2 linked regions of the Homo sapiens genome follow. The protein of the gene in region 1 interacts with the protein of each later gene in a pairwise test. Each region holds a gene or a part of one and is shown in the gene's direction. Other genes may lie near its edges.

Region 1 (7,033 bases):
GGGTGTCTTTTATTCCAGAAATAGTGTTGGTCTTACATCAGAGAGGGCTTGAGTATTTTGCAGATAAATGTGCCCATTGTGACATCTGAGAGGTTTTTCTGGTGTTCTCTTCCCAATAACAGCCATTACAGCAGCAGATCATCAGACTCCACCAAGAGCTTGGGAGACAGAAGTCTCTGTGGGCTGATGTTCATGGAAAACTCCGGAGTCATATAGATGCTTTGAGGGAGCAGAACATGGAGCTCCGAGAAAAGCTGAGAGCTCTGCAGCTGCAGCGGTGGAAAGCCAGGAAGAAATCTGCAGCGTCCCCACACGCGGGGCAAGAATCGCACACTCTGGTACCAAAAGCGCATTTATGTTTTTGTACCGTTTGCGTTATGTAAAAATAGCGTCCCCATAAAGATGTGGGCTTTATTGCTGAATGACGCGGTATCACTCACGCTCCGGGTGGTGGGAGGGGTTGCTATCTTTCCATCAACTCCATTTCCCGTAAGTAATGATTAATAAGAACTGGATACATCAGGCCTCTCACCTGGCACTCCAGCAGACAGAAGCATTGCCGCCCCCAGGCCGTGTGTCTCAAGTCCAGAATTCTAAGACATCTCATGATGTCTCAGGACAACAGCAGCAAACCCTTACTGTGGACTTTACATGGGCTAGGTACGGAGCTTTACGGTCTTACTCTCTATGACGACCCTATGAAATGGATCCTATTACTAACCCCATCGTGGCCACGGGCTGGAGAACGTAGAGCTGGGATTTGAACCCAGGGTGACTCCAGAGCCAGCTCAGTAGCCTGGTGTCCTTCTGTTCATCCTCTAGGACAGCTGTGTAGAATGCAATAGAGACCTGTTGAAACGGGAAAAGTTCCCTTGTCCCCCTCGCAGGGTGTGCGATGGGGGTGTGGCTCGCTTCTTTGGTTCCCCACTGCTCAAACCTCTAGGGGAGTGTACAGACCGGCAGGCTATGGGGCTCTGACCCCACGGCAGTGTCTGGGGGTGAATGTTTCCAGCTGAAGCCCCAGAGGGTGTGTGTTACAGTGCGGGAGCTCTTTCAGTTTACCCCTCCGTAGGCAGCTTGTGTTTATCAGCTCAATTAGACCCTCTGCCTTATCACAAGGACAGAGGGCTTTCTGTATCCTGGGTTCTTGCCTTGGTGTACCTGAAAAATCAGATCACACATGGGCTTGGAGGATGGGTGCAAGGTTTTTTATTGAGTGGTGATACCTGTCAGCAGATGGGGGAGCCAGAAGGGAGATGGAGTGGGAAGGCAGTTTTCCCCTTGGGAGTTGGGCTGCCCAGTGACCGGGCTCTCCCCTGACCACCCCAAGCAAACTCCGTGTCATTCCGCCAGTCGATGGCCTGCTGGCGTCTGCTGTGTCTGCTGGTGTGCTCTTCTGCCGGTGTGTTCTTCTCGACATCCAGCCGCTTGGTCTCTGCCCGCTAGGGTCTTGGGGTTTTTATAGGCATAGGATGGGAGTGTGGCAGGCCACGGTGGTCTTGGGAAATGCAACATTTGGGCACAAAAGCAGAAATGCGTAGGTCCATGGGCACAGGCCCAGGGGTCGAGCCCTAGCCAGGGACCCCGTTCTTCTCCACCCAGGACTTTCCTGCCCCCATCCTGTATCACTAACCTGCTCTATCCCGAACGAAGAACCAGCATTCTCATGCTGAAGTAGTGGGTGCCTCCCAGCACCAGCCTGCCTCTACAGAACACTGAGCTTTCACGTTTGATCACACCGCTCAAAGAACCAGCCTAAGAGAGTGTGAATGTGGCCAGTGTTATCACTGCCTTGTCTGGGTTCTGTTTCCTGCATATGGATCTAAATAACTTGAATCATTAAAATTATACATACAGGTAACAACACATGAAACCACATGAACACCCTCCAAACGTAAGTGGGGATATTTCTTAGTGGATTAAGAAAAGTACTAACATTTCCTAGCTGCATTTATTGTGTGAACTTTTAAATCGGTACTTCCAGGACTTAGAATATTTCCGATACAGCACAGTGATTACAACACACACACACACACACACACACACACACACACACACACAGGCACCCACCGAATACATTCCAGAGGAGACTGCTCTGTGGTTTGTTCTCCAAGCACAGCAAAAACAGCCACAGCTGGGCGCGGTGGCTCACACCTGTAATCCCAGCACTTTGGGAGGCCGAGGCAGGTGGATCGTGAGGTCAGGAGATTGAGACCATCCTGGCTAACACGGTGAAACCCCGTCTCTACTAAAAATACAAAAACATTAGCCAGGTGTGGTGGCGGGTGCCTATAGTCCCAGCTACTCGGGAGGCTGAGGCTGGAGAATGGCCTGAATCAGGGAGGTGGAGCTTGCAGTGAGCCGAGATCGCGCCACTGCACTCCAGCCTGGGGGACAGAGCAAGACTCCGTCTGAAAAAAACAAAACAAACAAACAAAAAAAACTGCCACAAGTTCCTCTACAAGAAATTACGGGAAATCTTGGAAGTTATTCCCACTCTTCGGGAGCTCTGCGAGAGCTTTGTTTCCATGGAGATGGCTTCTGCTGCCTCAGAAAGAAAGTGAGTTTAGCCTCTCAGCACAGCAAAGCGCCGAGTCCTTCTGCGGAAGGAAGAGCAGAAGCTGGGCAGGCTGTTCCTCTGTCAGAGGAAGAGTGGGGGAAATTGCCACAAATACTGGCCGGGATTGTCCACCTTCTGTGGGGAGAACCCAAGAAGACTCACAGGGATTTTTTTCCCTACATATATTGTATGCCAGTTCCTAAAAAATAGTATCTACTGCCCCATTTGGGTCATTGTATAACAATTACCCTAAGAGTCAATGAAGTCTTATTCAGTCTTCACATGCCCTGCAGTTTTGATCATTCTCTTATTTTGAGATTAGAGCTTGGTGAATTTCCAAATATTTTTCCATTCTGTGCATTGCACTGGTCACCGTGGGGCTATTTATAAGAACAGGATGTACGCTCACAAGAGCATACCTGATTTGAAGAAACAGGATGGGATATGTGAATCCCACACTTTAAATATGCGAAGGTGTATCTGTGTGTAGTCGCCGTTTTAGGGACTGAATATCTAAAAGGCTGAGACTCGAGCACCCACAGAACGCGGGCATGGCTGTGTGGGTGAGCCACTCTGGATCTGATATTAAGGGTTCGTTCATAGCAACCCTCTCCCCTTCTCATTCCCTTCTCCTCCTCAGAGGGCAGAACGGTGAATAATTTAGCATTCCAGACCTAATATACCTCATCCCACCTGAAGGATCACCCTGTTCCAGGTCAGTCTGCTGATAACAGGGAAAGTTGGGAATTTGCATTTTGGATCTTAGACAAGTTGTAGAGACAACACTAGAAGTAGTATCACATTTTCTTCCTCCGTTAACACACTCCCGGTTGAAGACACAGGAGCCTAAAGGAAGATATGTTGGGGATTGTTTGTTCTGTAGCCTTTGGGATCCTGTGATCATTTTGAAACAAGGAACCACAATAAGAAACACAAAGCAAACATCGGCTCCACAAAGGTTCCTTCACAAACGCTTGGTGAGGGTTTCTGTTCTTATCAACATATTAGGGGGAAAACCCAGTCCAAGTCCCCCTACCTTGTACCCTATTTTTTTCTAGGACATTCCAATTATTCTTCATTGTATTAAAATTTGAATTTATTTTACCTTCGAAAATGTGAAGAATTTCCCTGCATTTTGTCTTTTAGGCATTGGAACCTGCTTTTGGAAAAATTTCACCTCTGTCAGCTGATGAAGAGACAATACCCAAATACGCTGGCCACAAGAATCAGAGTGCCACTCTCCTGGGACAAAGATCGTCATCTAACAATTCAGCTCCTCCAAAGGTGACCCTTTGTGCTTATCATCTGTAAAGAGAAGCAGAGGTTCTGTACCCAAACACACACATCCCATCAGCTCCTCACCACACAATTTCACCTCCCTGGGTGAGCATGGTGCTCCCTGGAGTCCTGTGTTCTTCCAAGGACACGGGTACATGCCTTTCAAACAAGATCCTAACCCTTAGCACTTCTTGCTGTGGAGCAGATTCCAAGTCCTCCCGGCTGCTTCCCTCTGAGTACACTCACAGCAGCAAGCGTCTGGCTGGGGCCGAGGGGACTTGGGGGCTTTGTTTCCGTGGGTGCAGGCTGCGGAGGTGATGTGTGTGGCACTGTCTCCACCCGTGAGTCTGAGGGCTCGCAGCCTCCCGTGCTCCCTGCTTCTGCACTGCGGTCTTGCACCTGCTGCTTGTCGGCGTGGACTCCTCTGAACAGGGGTGGCGCTGTTAGCTTGGGAGCCACAGTACAGGATGCTATTTTGTCTCTTGTTGGGAATAGGCCCCCAGATCTGGCCATAAACTGGCCCCAAAACTGGCCACAAACAAAATCTCTGCAGCACTGTGACATGTTCGTGATGGCCATGATGCCCACGCTGAAGGTTGTGGGTTTACCAGAATGATGGCAAGGAACACCTGGCCCACCCAGGGTGGAAAACCGCTTAAAGGCGTTCTTAAACCACAAACAGTAGCATGAGCGATCTGTGCCTTAAGGACATGTTTCTGCTGTGGATATCTAGCCAGAGCCCATCCCTTTGTTTTGGCCCATCCCTTTGTTTCCCATAAGGAATACTTTTAGTTAATCTATAATCTATAGAAACAATTTATCACTGGCTTGCTGTCAATAAATATGTGGGTAAATCTCTGTTCACGGCTCTCAGCTCTGAAGGCTGTGAGTGCCCTGATTTCCCACTCCACATGCTATACTTCCGTGCGTATGTCTTTAATTCCTCTAGCACTGCTGGGTTAGGGTCTTCCTGACCGAGCTGGTCTCGGCAGTCTCTATCACATTTTTCTTTGTTAAAATTAGCTCCTCTTTAGAACATTCTCCCAGCCAGTGTGTCTCTTCCTGTCCCAGCTTTGTGTCACCCTCATACTCAGGAAGCAAATCTCGTGAGTCCACAGCCAGCAACTGATACTGGGTTGATGTGGATGGAGAAGGCGCCCCCAACTCCTGAAGATGATTTATCCCCTCGCATTCTTTCCCAAAGCAACTGCTGAGCAGATAACACTTTATTCCCTGAAGGAAGATCAGAAATCTACTCCAAGCATTTGTCACAAGTAGGAAAAGAGCCTTTTCAGATCCTATGAGTACAAAACATCGTAAGTCCCAGGGTGGACTGCACAGGCCCAGCCTCCTGTGAGACGCGGACTTCTCTCATGCTCCATCATTGACCTGAGTTAATCACAGGCATGCGGGGCAATGTACGAGTAAATAGATAACTGAATGGGTGGCTTATCCACGCCTTGAAACCATCAATTGTTAAATAGTGCAAAATGTAGAAAATTATTTTTATTATGCATTTTTGAATTGAGTTTCAAGCACTTTATTTCACTGTTGACTTTACAATATCAGCCATGTATTGGAATCCCAAATTTCACAAGAGCGTGGGCTGTAAAATGGGGAATGAGAGACACTAAGTGTGGATACCTCATGTGTCCTTCTGTAGGAAGGGGGAGTAGAATCATCTACATTCTGTGATAGCTGGTATGATGTGTTGCTTAACATTTAAAAATAATATAATTGTTACTAATGCAAAAATATTCCCACATTTGTTTTCAGCCAATGAGTTTAAAGATAGAAAGAATTAGCTCGTGGAAAACACCACCACAGGAAAATAGAGATAAAAATCTTTCCAGGAGACGTCAAGACAGAAGAGCAACACCTACTGGAAGGCCAACTCCCTGTGCAGAGAGACGGGGGGGTGTCTGAAGATGGAAAGGTGGCCTCGGACACCTGTGTCACTCTACACTGGCCCCTTGGAAAATTCAGATTCAGATAAAGTTCCACTTAGGTCTAATAAAAGTACTCAATTTGTTATTCAAAATAGACCTAGTAATTTATTAAACTAATTATGTTTCTATAGATAAAAACTTGAAGTTCTTCAGACATGTCTCTAATGCTATAAAAGCAAACAACTTGGATTGGGTTTTATAAATCAGTTGCTTTCCTGAGCTCTGTAGTTGGTATATTTCTGCAGAGTCTTTAAAAAAATTAACCCACCTTGTAGTATGGAGTGTCGGGCTGTTGGGTGAGCCCTGGGGTCTTGCTGGAAATCGAGGATGGCTGAAGATGGCTTTGTGCTCCCAGCCTTTGGGCTCAAGGCATTGCCCGCTCCAGGGACCTTGTGACAAGGCGGGCCTGTGACTGTCATTGCCCCAGGCTATGCATCCATCTTCCCGAAGTCTGCAAAACTTGAGTGGCAGAAAATCACCAGTGCAGGCTTCCCAGGCCGCCATGCTGCAGGAGCAGATGGCAGCAGCCGGAGGAGCTGGTGAGCAGAGTTGGGGACTCCTGTTTCTATGCTCCCCGTGAAATGCGGGGCTTTCTCGTGGATACGCGTGAGCAGAACATCTTACTATGGCAAGGACATGTCCTTCCTGGAGCTGCCTAATTTGTGGCCACTTTTTGTCTGATTCCCTCGTTGGGTCCTCACCTGTGAGACTTGCCAACACCCCCAGCCCTCCACCCCACACACAGCCCACATGCCGGTCTCCAGGGGCCGTGACTGGAGATTCCGAATCCTAGCGGTCACTTCCCTCTGAGCACACTCCCAGCAGAAGGCGTGTGGCTGGGGCTAGATGCACTTGGGTGCTTTGTTCCCCTTTCTCCATTTGCCAGCCCATGGCATTGCTGCCACCCTGATGGAGCGCCCTCTCATCTGGCACCTTCCTGGCCTCTTTCCCAGGCCCCAGTTCTGTCCATGCAGCTGTGGGTGCTTCCTGCATTGCGGGTCTCACGGGGAGGAGACGAGAGTGCCCCTGGTTGAGTCAGGAAAGAATTCTATCTTCACGTCGCTGCCAGCAAATGACCACAGCAGCTTCACGACCTCTGCAGGAACCTATCTTGGTAAAGAAACGGGGCCTATGTGGTGGCCGAGCCTCAGGTGTGGCCGAGCTTCAGGTGTGGCCCTTATGCACAGCACAGCCCAAGCCTGTGGGCACCACTCGCCCTGGGCTGCCTGGCACCTGGACTCCTTCC
Region 2 (5,211 bases), on another chromosome or scaffold:
GGGGACAGATTGCTCTCTGGGGTCCTGGGCTGTGAAGAGGCAGCTGCTGGAAGGAGAGAGGGGGCCAGGGTTTCCTGGGTGCCATCAGAAGGCAGACTAAAAGTAGGCAGCCTGATGGGGGTGCCAGGGTGGGGTTGGGGCAGCGGGAGCTGGCAGTGGGTCTGGGCTCAGGGAGACATTCCCTGGGACCGCCCCCCAAAGGACTTTTGACAGCCCTGTTGGTTTGGGGGCCTTGTGACATTTGGACCAACCAGGGCAAATCTCTATCTGCTCTGAGGGCCTCTTCTGCCTGCATAGGCATGGTCACCTTCAGGCTGGGGTGTCAGGAGCTTTGAGAGGGGCACAACCAGAGCCCTGGGGGCCCTCACAGAGCAAGCAGTGTCTCAGTGGGGCCCACAGGAAGGTTTAGAGAGGGCAGGGCACAGGTGTTGCAGGGACAGGCATGGCATAGGCCACAGCCCGATGGGGGCGGGCAGGGCTGGGAGTGTGTGAGGAGACCCGCTGTAAGCAGGACTGTCCTGGAGACGGTGCCAGCCAAAGATTGGGTAGCACTGACCCGCTGCCACACATGGCTCAACTTGGCCAAGGCTGCCTGGTGGCTGCGGGTATTAGAGCTGGGCCGTAGACAGAAACCACAGGGCTGGGAGGTGGCATCTGACTGTGACCGCCTGGCTGGGGCAGGGAGGGACCCACCTCAGGCTGTGGGGCTGGCAGAGACTGGGCACCCTGTGGCCTGTAGCCTTGGCTAGGTCTTGGCAGGGATGGGGAACCTCCCGGGCCCAGGCCTGGGTGCCCCAGTGCCTGGCCAGGGGGATGGGGGGACTCCTCTTCCCGCTGTGAGCTCACAGCCCCCCTCGACCCCAGAAACTGGAGGAGCAGGACCGCCGGGCACTGAGCATCAAGGAGCAGCTGCAGCAGGAGCATCGTTTCCTGAAGCGGCGCCTGGAGCAGCTGTCGGTGCAGAGCGTGGAGCGCGTGCGCACAGATAGCACGGGCTCTGCTGTCTCCACGGACGACTCAGAGCAAGGTGGGGCGTGGGGCGCGGGGCAGCCTCACCTGGGCCTCCGGGTGCGCAGTGGTGCAGCTCCCTGGGTGGAGAGGAGGTGCCTGGTGCTGGGGCTGGGGAGAACCCTCCCAGCTCCCTGCTGCACTGGGGTGTGTGTTTGTCACTAAGCGCAGAAGGGACTGGACAGGGAGGGTGGGATGCAGAGGCTGTGTGGCCCGCTGAGGACTGGTGCTTCTGAGGCCGGGTTCTCAGCCAGAGCCCTCCTGGCGTCTGCTGCCCCAGGGCCCAGACAGCGCCCTCCGCACTTCTGCCCCTCTGCCTAGAGCTTCTGCTTCCAGAAAAGGGAGAAATGGGCTGGCACCCTCAGAGTGGCCTGACCCCATCCCCACTCTATTCTCCCTAGAAGTGGACATAGAGGGCATGGAGTTTGGCCCTGGTGAGCTGGACAGTGTTGGCAGCAGCAGTGACGCGGACGACCACTACAGCCTGCAGAGTGGCACCGGCGGCGACAGTGGCTTCGGGCCCCACTGCCGGCGGCTGGGCCGCCCCGCCCTCTCGTAGGCCCGTGCCCTCTGCTCCTTGGCCTGCCTGCCCGCCAGCCACGCGTGTCAGCCCTCCAGTTCTCCTTCAGTTGACGCCAGCCTCTCCACAGGCCCACTGCTGTGCCATTCTGGAAGCTCCAGCTGCTGCTGGGCTGCCTGGCACTGCCCGCTTGCCGGTCAGGGCCTGCCGAGCTGCCTGCCCCTTCCAGCTGGGCAGAGTCCCCTGCAAGGAGGCAGGGCCCAGCTTCCACATCCGGAGCCCTGGTCAGCATAGCCGCCCACGGTCTGTTCTCAGATTCCTAATCATTCCAGAAGTATTAAACGTCATTGCTGCAAACCTCGGCAGGTGCCGTGTGAGGGGCTTAATGACCACCACAGGGAGCTCAGACCCCAACCCTGGATCCCAGGAGAAAGGAGTGGACCGAGGAAGGAAGGAAGGCAAGGCTGTCTGTCCATCCGTCCGTCTGTCCACCTACCTGTCAGTCCACATAGGCTCCTGGCGTGGACAAGGGGTCTGTGAAGGGCGGGAACTGGGTGAGCACCTGGGGCAGGTGGGTGGTTAAGGTCCTTCCCACTTCGCAGGTGTCAGAACCTAGGGCTGGGCTCTCGGGGCCAGGCAGGCCAGCCCAGCCCACGCCGAGCTGGGCAGCGTCTGCTCTGGTAGGACTGTCAGACGCACACGCGCACGCACCTAGACACACCCACTCATGTACATGCTCACACATGCAGACACACCTGGGCGTCCCGAGGTCACATGTTCTGGGGATGATGGCCTTCAGGGGTCATCTGGCAAACAGCCCCTGGGCTGTGCCTGGATCCCCCTCTAGCTCCTGCTCACCCACGCCCACCCAGTAGTCCTGCCTGTCTGCACAGGAGAGGGGCTTCTCTTCCTGGCTGGGGCTGGGGTGAACTGGAGGCTGGTTAAGTTGCAGCCGCTGGGTCCTCGGGGGCTTACTCATCTCCCTTTTTTAAACAAAAAGCAAAAAAGTAAAATGCTGCACTGCCCAGCAGCCCGGTTAGGGCTCCTGGAGCCACCTTAGGAAAGGGCTTCTCATGAGCTCTGCTGCGGCAGCTTCAGCTGGCAGAGAGGCTTTCCCAGAAAAAAAAAAAAAACCATTTTTAAAAAGAAGAAAGCCTAAAGACTCTCGGCCTAGGGACGTCCGTGTGTGCCGCCTCTGTTTCCTGTACCAGATTTTTGTATTCTATTTTCCTAGCTGTTGTTGCGTCCTTGTTTGCTGAGGGGTGGGAGCCACCCAGCGTCTCAGGGACCTGTCCCTCCGTCACGTCGTCAAAGTGTGCCTTGTGTCTTGTGTCAGGCCTTGCCCTTCCCACCAGCATGTCCCTCGTGGCTCAGGGTGCCCCAGGCCTGCCCAGCTAGTGCTGTCCTCCCATCTCCTGTGGGCAGCCCCTCCCGGCAGCCAGGGCTTCCTGGAGGCGATGCAGCCAGGCCCCTGTGGGTGGCACGGAGGGGCTGTGACCTGGTCCCCAGTGTTGCCCTCCCCAGTGGCTGGCAGGGGCCTGCTTGCTCACTAGAGAGATGGATTCTCACCTGTCACCTGACTCGAGCCCCCTGCTTCCTGGCCTAGGCGAGGGTTCCAGGTTTCAGACACTGGCAGCCAATGAAGACTGTGCTCGCTGGGTGGTGCAGGCCTGGCACCAGGAGGCTTGCACCCGCCTTTCCTTCCTGACGTCCTCTGTCCTTGGGGCTGGCCCATAGCAGTGCCTGCCGTGCCTCTGGTACATCTGTAGCCAATTCCCATATCATGGGGAAAATTCGTGTCTATTTTCAGTCGTACGCATAGACGCCCCAGGATGGGGGGCCCACTGTGGCGGAAGGGGGTCCCTGGAAACAACTCTGGCACAGAACCTGCCCTGCAGGCTGTAGGGGGCATGGTGCCTGGAGCTGAGGGGCATCCGAACGCGTTGCGGGTGGTTGTGAGGAGGCCTGTCTGCATCTCCTTCCGGCCCCACTGGGGTCCAGGGGTGCCCAGAAAGGAGCTTCCCCTGCCTGCCTGAGTCTGTCCCCCCAGGCTTCATTTCAAACACCGTGGCACCTCCGAGCAAGGCGGGCCGTGTGTAAAAGCTTGCTTCCCCAGCCAGCACTGCAGGGCCCTGAGGTGGTCGTGTCCCTGCCCTCAATTCTTGAAGCACCAGCTCCCTGCCCCACCCTCCAGTGCCTGAGGCAGCTAGGGGCTTCTGCTCTCATCTCTGACCAGCAGAATCCACCCGGTGACCAGTGGTGGCCCCTCAGCCCACCCTCCCGGCAGCTCAGCCTGTGGCTCTTGAGGCCGTGGTTCCCACGTGGACTGGGAGGCAGTCTCAGCCACCCGGGGTGCTGTTCAGCTGCCCCTCCCTGCCATCAGCAGGTGGGTGAGGGGTTGCCCACTGGGTGGGGGCCCGTGCTAGGAGTCACCACATGCTCCAACCTCCCACTGCTCCCTGTCAGGGGCCCAGGCTGCCATCACTGGAGGCTGCAGGGACCAAGAGGCCATCACCGTGTCTATAGAGAGCAGACAGAAGCAGAACAGAGCCCGGGGCTCCTGAGCCTCTGCGTGTGCCCTCCCAGCCCACACCAGTGCTCTCGGCCACTGAGCACCCAGACTCAGGCTTGGGTTCCCCAGCCTTATTGGAAGGCAGCTCCCGCATACCAGGATAACCCCCGCAAACCACATAGCAGACCCCCGCCATCCTCGCAGAGTGGGAGAGGCTGCAGCAAGGCTTTGCCTCTGCAGACCCCATCTTAGTGGCACGGTGCTTGGGCCTGTGTCCCCGGGTGGTGGAACCCTGTACCGGTCTGTGGCCCTAGGGTCCCTGCTCTGTCTGCCCCGGCCCGTGCTGTCCGCTGGGTGAGGCAGGCTCCCCCGTGCCCTGCCTCCCTCTGTCAGGGAACCTGGGACCCCCTCCCCACTGCCTGCACAGAGGACCCTGACCCTCGGCCAGCAGGGTGGCCCCAGGTCCATGTTGGGCACTAGGGCAGGTTCCGTGCCAGAGTCGGGGGCCACACGAGGGCCTGGTGCCGGTGAGGGGGGCGTGCGCTAGAGGGGGAAAGGGGCCCCCGGCCACCTGTCCACCGTGTGGGCCGTGCTGTGTCCTTATGTCATTGTAATATAAATACAGATTTTTATATCTCACCCTGCTGGCTCCGGCTCTTTCTGTGGTTGTCACTGTCAGCGTGCTTCGCGCCCTGCCCTCGGCCTCCAAGCAGAAAGCCTGGCCCAATGGCACCACGCCATGTGGCCTTCGGGCCGTGGCCCTCGTTGCCCTACCACAGCCTCTTTCCTGGGAGGCCTGACGGAGCACGGCACCCCGTGCCGCCAACCACACCGGGCCCGCCGTCACAGCTGCCTCCCTGGATGCTGTGGCGCCTGGAGCTGGGTGAAGGTGGGGTTGAGGTGGGCGCCCCCATGGGCCTGTTGGCCAACTGGATGCTCTTGTTGCTCTTGTCCCAGAGGCACTGGGACTTTGCCTCTGGCCCTTGTGCTGGGGCCCTGCTGGCCGAGGACAGCCCGCTCCCTGGGGTGCTCCGTGCCAGCCAGGAGCCCTCTGCACAGAGGCTGCTGGCTCTCAGAGCTGCACTGTGAGAATCGCTCTGTACCTGTTCCCAGAACTACCTGGGCACGGCTTCTGCTTCCTGTCATGGGGACCTGCCGTGCTGAGGTGAAG

What was found.
Region 2: the proteins of TCP10L (region 1) and MXD4 interact in binary tests that used the Homo sapiens proteins (3 or more experiments, as listed by UniProt).

Annotation. Positions count from the first base shown.
Region 1 is NC_000021.9:32,575,505-32,582,537, reverse strand, and holds part of TCP10L (T-complex protein 10A homolog 1), read left to right. Parts: intron 1-122; coding exon 123-338; intron 339-3,706; coding exon 3,707-3,844; intron 3,845-5,614; coding exon 5,615-5,764; 3' UTR 5,765-7,033. Other genes in the region: CFAP298-TCP10L (uncharacterized protein LOC110091775), read left to right, coding at 123-338, 3,707-3,844, 5,615-5,764. UniProt on the Homo sapiens protein: May be involved in transcriptional regulation. Has in vitro transcription inhibition activity. Acts as a tumor suppressor in hepatocellular carcinoma (HCC) cells.
Region 2 is NC_000004.12:2,246,900-2,252,110, reverse strand, and holds the end of MXD4 (max dimerization protein 4), read left to right. Parts: intron 1-864; coding exon 865-1,027; intron 1,028-1,409; coding exon 1,410-1,567; 3' UTR 1,568-4,679; downstream 4,680-5,211. UniProt on the Homo sapiens protein: Transcriptional repressor. Binds with MAX to form a sequence-specific DNA-binding protein complex which recognizes the core sequence 5'-CAC[GA]TG-3'.